Homo sapiens: one gene and its partner. The protein of the gene in region 1 interacts with the protein of each later gene in a pairwise test. Each region holds a gene or a part of one and is shown on either strand. Other genes may lie near its edges.

Region 1 (4,321 bases):
AAGGACCATGACCCCTAGATCAGTCCCCTTTTTCCCACACTGCATGTCACCCACCCCTCCTCTTCAATGCATAGTACCCCAGGGTGACTAACTGAGCCCCAGGCTTCACACGCACACACACCACACAAAAACACAGGTTCACTTCTCCGGCCCTGGGACTTTCCTGCCCATACCCGAGGTCACTCCAAGCCCCTACATTCCATCTTAGAACCCAAAGAACACACACACACACACACACACACACACACACACACACACAGTCGCTCTGCATCACCAACCCACATCCTCAAGGGTATCCATCCCTCTATTTCTTTTATTTCCTTTCTTAAAACTTGAACTATGCAAGTTAGAAAGTACACACAAAAACATCCCATCAAGACACACTATATTTTGCTAAGAACGAATTAGCTTAGCAAGAACAAATACCCGCGACACATTAGCTGGAAAAATATTGACATGGTGCGATCACTTACAAGTTTGATAATTAATATTTGTTACATAAAAAGGCACTCTAATATACAACTGGTTTTTATTCTTAAAGTATGATTATGTAATAAAGCATTACCCCATATCCCGTTCAACATCAGAAAAATAACAGAAAAGTTTTTTCACGGATGGAAATGCTTTTAATGGACATGCCATTGTTTACTGTGCTCAAAACTGCCATTCCCCTCATAAAACATTACCATATGAAAATTATTAAAAGATTTAAGGCCTTCAAACCTAAATAGCGGGCCAAAGGCTTGCTTCATTTAGGGTAGCATAAGCATCTGCGCTGAGACTCTCTTGCTCCTTCCTCACTCTTCCAGAAATAATGCCCCTTCAAGAGCCCAAAAGTATAAAGGTTGTCCGGCAGATTCCCAGTGGCCTTATGTTCCTCCCTCCTCCCCCTACTCCGCCTTGGTTTAAAGAAGACAAGAGAAGGCTCCAGAATTGATAAAAGGGCAAGTTAGCAAGGATGTGGCTTATGATCACTAGCATCTGCTAGGCCAGCTCCAAGAAGACCCTCCACTCAAAAAATGAGACCTGAATGCCTGTCTTTGCCCCAGGGCCATAATCCTTGTGCGCCTCTGGGACCCCTTTAGAAATGAAGAGGAACTTTACTGCTGGGACCCTCCTCCCCAGTGTTATCCACTAAAGCCTCAGCAAGCTCTTTGTTTCCAACAGCTGTGGGGGGGCAAGCGGCCTTGGAGAGAGGGGAGAGGTCACTCCCTTGCTCCCCGCTGCTGCCAGAATCCAGGCCCTCCCGCAAAACACACACACACAGGCACGACATCTTCCCTGGGACCCAATTCTCTCTTTCCACACTTTAATAACCCAGGGTTACACCTTGCTACACAAGGGCATTCCCTGAGACCTAATTTCCTCTTTCTACATCCAAACCCTACACAGGATGATGACTCCCAAGCCTCCTCCCCTTTGAAAAGACATAAATGGGGTTCGCTATAGGGCACCCATCCCTCCTCTTCAATGCATACCCCAGGGTGACTAACTGAGCCCCAGGCTTCACACACAACACACAAAAACACAGGGTCACTTCCTGGGCCCTGGGACTTTCCCCGCTCATATCCACAGACCCGAGGTCACTCTAAGCCCCCAGATCCCATCTCAGAACCCAAAGAACACACACGCGCGCGCGCGCGCACACACACAGTCACTCTGCATCGCCAAACCGCGTCCTCAAGACAACCCGTTCCCTTTATCCACACGACCCCCACCCCCGAGACCCCCAGTGCCTTAAGGAAGAATCTCCCCAGCACATCAGCACATGGTCACTCCCCTGCCCTCACCCCGCCCAGCCCCCTCGCCGTCTCCCACCCACCGCACTCTGCACACACACACACAGATCCCTGCCTGGGGCCGCCCTCCCTCCCCTCAGCCTTCACAACACAAACACACGCTCCCGCGAGCACACCCACGACCACACCGGGAGCCCCGGCCGGCCGCTCAGCCTCGCCGGCCCCGGCCCCGGCCCCACCGCCTCCCCACACGCCGGGCCGCCCTCGCCCAGCCACTCGACACACTCGGACGCACCCACGGCCACTCCCATCCCCAGCGCCGGTCCCAAAGCCACACCGCACGCTCGCGCCCTGCCCTCCGCCCTCGCTCACCCTCGGGCCCACCCCTGGGACCCCCACGACGGGGTCTTTCCCAGCCCGGCCGACCGCAGGGACCACGAGGGAGGCGGCAACGGAGGGGTGGGAAGACCTAGGGCCGGCTCCGACCGGTCCTACCTGAGCAGTTGATGCTCTTGCCTTTGCCGCCGGGACAGTCCCCGCCGCTGCCGCCGCCACCACCCGGGGGCTGGTTGGACGCGCGGCTCCCGGGCAGAGAGAAGGCGAAGAGCAGAAGCACCGACGTGTAGCAGCAGAAGGCGAGCGGAGGCGCGGCAGGCAGCCGGAGCGGCGCCTCAGCGGCTGCGGCGCCCATGACTGGTGCCCCTGGACGGCGGGAAGCGCAGGGAGCCGCAGGCCGGGGGCATCCAGCCGCGCGCCCAGAGCCCCGCCGCTGCCTCGGTGCCTCCTAGCAGCCGCGCCGCTGAGCCGGGGAGCAGCCCGTCAGCATCCCCGCCCCACCCGCAGCGTCCGCCAGGCCCGGGCCCGCGGCGCTCGGGACGGAGTCGGCGGGTCCGGGCGCGTGCGAGGGTCGCGGGCGCGCAAGGGTGCGCGCGAGGGTGCGAGCCGGCGTGGGGGACACCGCGGCGAGGGGAGCGGGCGGGCGCGCGCGCGGCGGGCGGGGGTCGCGGGCCGGAGGCAGGCCCAGCCTCTTGCTCGCCTCCTCGCCTTCCCTTTGTGTCCGTGGCCGTTGCCACCGCGTCACAAAGACCCCGGCCCGCCCGGTGAGGGGCGCGTGACGGAGCCGCCGGCGGGAGGGGTGGCTGCGACCCCGCCCCGCGCACACCCCCAGCTCCCGCGCCGACAGCTCCGCCCCCGGCCGCGGCCGGCGCCGCCTCCAGGGGAGCTATTGTTCCTGCGACAGGGCAGGGGCGCGGGGGCCGGGGTTGGGGCCACCCCTCGGCGGTAGGCTGCACCGTAGCAGACTTGTTTGCCGCCCTTTGTGAGCTGTTTTTGAAGCGTTTCCTTCGCCCAGCAGCAGGGCTGGGAATGAGGGCAGGTGGTCTGTCATATATCTATAATAGTTTTTAGGTGGAAGAAACTGAGTCACGGAAGAGGTAAAGGTGACTTGTCCAAGGTTGCATACCAAGAAATGGGCAGGACCAGGATGGGAGCCCAAGTTCTGACTCTAGCCATGCAGTTCTCAGAGATGTTGGGTGAATGGTTAGATTTCTAGGTTCCTCATCCCCACCTCATTCCCGTAGACTCACATACAAGTGAGTGAAAATAGTTTTACAAAAGTCTGTGTTGCCCTCTCCCCCTAACAAAAGCTGAGATTCAGAGAGGATTTTCTAATATACAAGGCCTGGTGAAAGCTCTTTATGTGCATTCTCTTCAATTATTTTTTTACAGGCCTCGGAGGGAGTTTTCGTTCTTATCTCCATTCTACAGATGAGGAAGTAGGGACCCAGAGAGGCAAGGTGATCTGACTCCCAGTCCAGTGCTCTTCCTACCACATCCTGCTAGGTGATAACTAGACATAGGTACTAAGATCATGGACTGAATTGTGTGAAAGTCCTCTGCCTTTTTCATTCTATTATATTGCATCCCACCCCAGAAGGAATTTTAAGTCTCATTGAAAAACTGATCAATTTGATTCATAAAATTAAGAAATGTGTGAAAAGCCACCGCAAGCAAAGCCACATTAGGAAAAATGTCTTCAGTGCAAATATGAGACAATATACTTAATATAAAGTTATATGTCAAGAAGAAAAAGTTAACATAATAGAAAAATAGGAAGCTTGACTCTTATTCACAAAAAGTACAGACAATAAATACATGAAAACAGATTTGAACCCACTAGTAATAAAAGATTAAAACCACAAAACTCTGGCCAGGGGCAGTGGCTCACACCTGTAATCCCAGCACTTTTAGAGGCCGAGGTGGGCGGATCACCTGAGGGCAGGAGTTCGAAACCAACCTGGCTAACATGGTGAAACCCCGTTTCTACTAAAAATAGAAAAAATTAGCCAGGCATGGTGGCGCGCACCTGTAACGCCTATAATCCCAGCTACTTAGGAGGCTGAGGCAGGAGAATCGCTTGAACCCGGGAGGTAGAGGTTGCAGTGAGCAGAGATTGCACTATTTCACTCCAGCTTGGGCAACAAGAGCGAAACTCCATCACACACACACACGCACACACAATTATTTTCCCTTTGGATGATTAACAAGAGTTAAAAGAATTGGCAGACTGAGCACTACTAATT
Region 2 (3,536 bases), on another chromosome or scaffold:
AGCAGTTCCTCAATGAAGAAAACACACTTAGAAACAAGACTTAGACACAGATTGATTCCCAATGGAAAAGAGAAAAACAATAAAGGTTACTGTAATTCAAAAAGGAAATTTGATAATAAAAAATCCCAAACACCCACACATAAGTGTGAGAAAAACAATACGGTTGTTAAGCCCTGTGGCAGCTTTTGAAAAACTATTAAGTAGTATTTGGAACCAGTAGTGAAGTGCAAATGAAGTAGCACTCTTTTTTTTTTTAACATTTGAGGTTATCTCTTTAGGTGTTACCACAAAAATCTGGAAGATCTGGGCCTTGAATTTGTATTTCCAGACACTAGTGATTCTCTGGTCCTTGTGGGAAAAGTACCACTATGTTTTGTGGAAAGAGAAGCCAATGAACTTCGGAGAGGAAGATCTACTGTGACCAAGAGTATTGTGGAGGTAAGACACAGCTGCAGATGTTAAGGAAATTGCTGAGTGATGGTAACCTCATATTTTGTCTGTAGATTCTCTGAATTCATCTTTTCTTCAACAAGTATTCATGGTATTTACCTGCGGTGTGCCAGGAGCTAGAAATTCAGAGATGAGTTAGCTCAAAATAAGGAAGAAGGGCATTTAAAGAATTATAGTCAGTGAACTTTGGCTAGTAGAGGTATGTGTTTTGCTTTCTTCCCAGTGATAAAGGTAATGAAAACTAAGAGTCTAGAATGCACCAAGATAGTTTTTCAGAAGTGTTATGGAAACACAGAATGACTTGTGTGCCTGGGGAGGTGAAGTCAATGAAAATGTCACAGAAAAGCTGTTTTCTTAAGAAAAGTTTTTACTTTTGAGAGACCAGGTCTCACTCTGTTGCCCAAGCTGGAGTGCAGTGGTGCAATCATAGCTCACTGTAGCCTTGATCTCCTGGGCACAAGCAATCTTCCTGCCTCAGCCTCCCAAGTAACTCGGACTACAGACACGCACCACCATGCCTGGCTAATTTTTTCCTTTTTTTTTTTTGTAGAGATGGGGGCCTCACTATGTTGCCCAGGCTGGTCCTGAACTTCTGGCCTCAAGCAATCCCCTTGCATTGGCTTCCCAAACCCCCGGCACTACAGGCATGAGCCACTGCACACAGCCAGAAAAGTCTTACAGAATAGTGGGAAACTAGGCTGGGCAAGGTGGCTCACACCTGTAATGCCAGCACTTTGGGAGGCCGTGGTGGGTGGTTCACCTGAGGTCGGGAGTTCGAGACCAGCCTGACAAGCATGGAAAAACCCCATCTCTACTAAAAATAGAAAATTAGCCGGGCGTGGTGGTGCATGCCTATAATCCCAGCTACTCAGGAGGCTGAGGCAGGAGAATGGCTTGAACCTGGGAGGCGGAGGTTGCATTGAGCCAAGATTGCACCATTGTACTCCAGCCTGGGCAACAAGAGTGAAACTCTGTCTCAAAAAAAAAAAGAAAAAAAGAATAGTGGGAAAGTGCTGAGTACAGAAGAGGGGAGAAGGGCATTCTAGACAGAGGAATACATATCAGAGACTTGAGATACATCCTATGTTTAGGGAACTATCAATAGATATGGCTCAAATTAAGATCTACAGTTGATCCTTGGATAACTTGGGTCTGAACTGCGCAGGTACACTTAAATGCAGATTTTCTTTCACCTCTGCCATTCCTGAGACAGCAAGACCAACCTTTCCTCTTCTTCCTCCTCCTTAGCCTATTCAATGTGAAAATGATGAGGGTGAAGACCTTTATGATGATTCATTTCCACTTAATGAATAATAAATATATTTTCTGTTTCTTATGATTTTCTTAACATTTTCTTTTTCTTTCTTTCTTTCTTTCTTTCTTTTTTTTTTTTTTTTGCGATGCCCAGGCTGGAGTGCAATGGCACAATCTCAGCTCACTGCAACCTCCACCTCCCGGGTTAAAGCGATTCTCCTACCTCAGCCTCCCAAGTAGCTGGGATTACAGGCGCACACCACCATGCCCCGGCTAATTTTTGTATTTTTAGTAGAGATGGGGTCTCACCATGTTGGCCAAGCTGGTATTGAACTCCTGACCTCAAATGATCCACCTGCCTTGGCCTCCCAAAGTGCTGGGATTACAGGCATGAGCCACTACGCCTGGCCAACATTTTCTTTTCTCTAGCTTACTTAATTGTAAGAATACAGTGTGTAATATATACAACACACAAAATATGTGTTAATCAACTGTTTATATTATTGGTAATGCTTCTGATCAACGTTAGGCTATTGGTAGTTAAGATTTGGGGAAATCAGGCCAGGTGCAGTGGCTCACGCCTGTAATCCCAGCATTTTGGGAGGCCAAGGCGGGCGGATCATTTGAGGTCTGGAGTTCAAGACCAGCCTGGCCAACATGATGAGACCCCGTCTCTACTAAAAATTAAAAAATTAGCCAGGCATGATGGTATGTGCCTGTAATCCCAGCTACTTGGGAGGCTGAGGCATGAGAATTGCTTGAACCCGGAAGGTGGAGGTTGCAGTGATCCAAGATCACTGCACTGCACTCCAGCCTGAGTGACACAGTAAGACTCCGTCTCAAAAAAAAAAAAAAAAAAATTGGGGGGAAATCAGAAGTTATACTTGGATCTTTGACTGGATGGGAGTTGGCTAGATGGGTTGTCAAGGTCAAATCATAAAATAATTTAGCATATTCTACTAAGTAGTTTGCATTTTATCCTATAGGCAGCCAGTGAAAACTTTTAAGCAGGAGAGTAAGGTCCATTTTAGATTGCATTCCAAATATGATTACTTTACATATATGTTTTGGTAAAGGTTTGGAAAGCTACTGCTGGGCTGTGGCATTGGAGGTATTAGAGAGAACTATTACTTTTTATTTTGATTACTTATATGTTTCTTTTTTTATAGCAAATATCATTTATTTTGTCTTTATTGTCTTTTTCCTCTCCTTTCCTGTTTTCTATTATAGTTTTCTGTATTTCTCTTTTTTTTTTTGCTCTACTCGTTTAGAAGTTATATATTCCATTTATATCCTTTTAGAGATTAGCCTTAACTTTTAGCATGCATACTTATCAAAGTTTAAAAGTAATTCACTTCTCTATCCTCTTCCTAACTGTACCAAAATCTTACAAACTGTTCATCTCCCATCACCCTCCTCCCATCTTCCATGTTGCTGTCTAGTACTTTAATTCCACCTTGTTTTTAATTCCCTGGTGGTCATTTATTTTATAGTCAATCTTTATTTAGATTAAAAAAAGTGTTCACCAGAGTCTTTGTTCACCATTGCCTCTTGCATCCTACTTATTCTGTGTTCTTTTGGGTTTTTTTTTTTTTTTTTTTTTTTTTTTTTTACTGAAGTAAATCTCTTACAAGATCTTTTATCCACAAACAGATCTTGAGACAAAAAATACAAAAATATAAAAATAAATAGAAGTTATTTTAGTAAGAGTCCGTGGGCCAGGCATGGTGGCTCATGCCTGTAATCCCAGCACTTTGGGAGGCCAAGGCGGGCAGATCACCTGAGGTCAGGAGTTTTGAGACCAGCCTGGCCAACGTGGTGAAACCCTGTCT

Evidence for each region. The genes of interacting proteins can lie anywhere in the genome.
Region 2: the proteins of TMEFF1 (region 1) and MLH3 interact in a two-hybrid assay, tested with the Homo sapiens proteins (one large-scale study listed by BioGRID).

The regions. Positions count from the first base shown.
Region 1 is NC_000009.12:100,471,654-100,475,974, reverse strand, and holds the start of TMEFF1 (tomoregulin-1 precursor), read right to left. Parts: upstream 2,827-4,321; 5' UTR 2,431-2,826; coding exon 2,235-2,430; intron 1-2,234.
Region 2 is NC_000014.9:75,027,445-75,030,980, reverse strand, and holds part of MLH3 (DNA mismatch repair protein Mlh3), read left to right. Parts: intron 1-265; coding exon of another isoform or gene 266-278; coding exon 279-438; exon of another isoform or gene 439-439; intron 440-3,536. UniProt on the Homo sapiens protein: Probably involved in the repair of mismatches in DNA.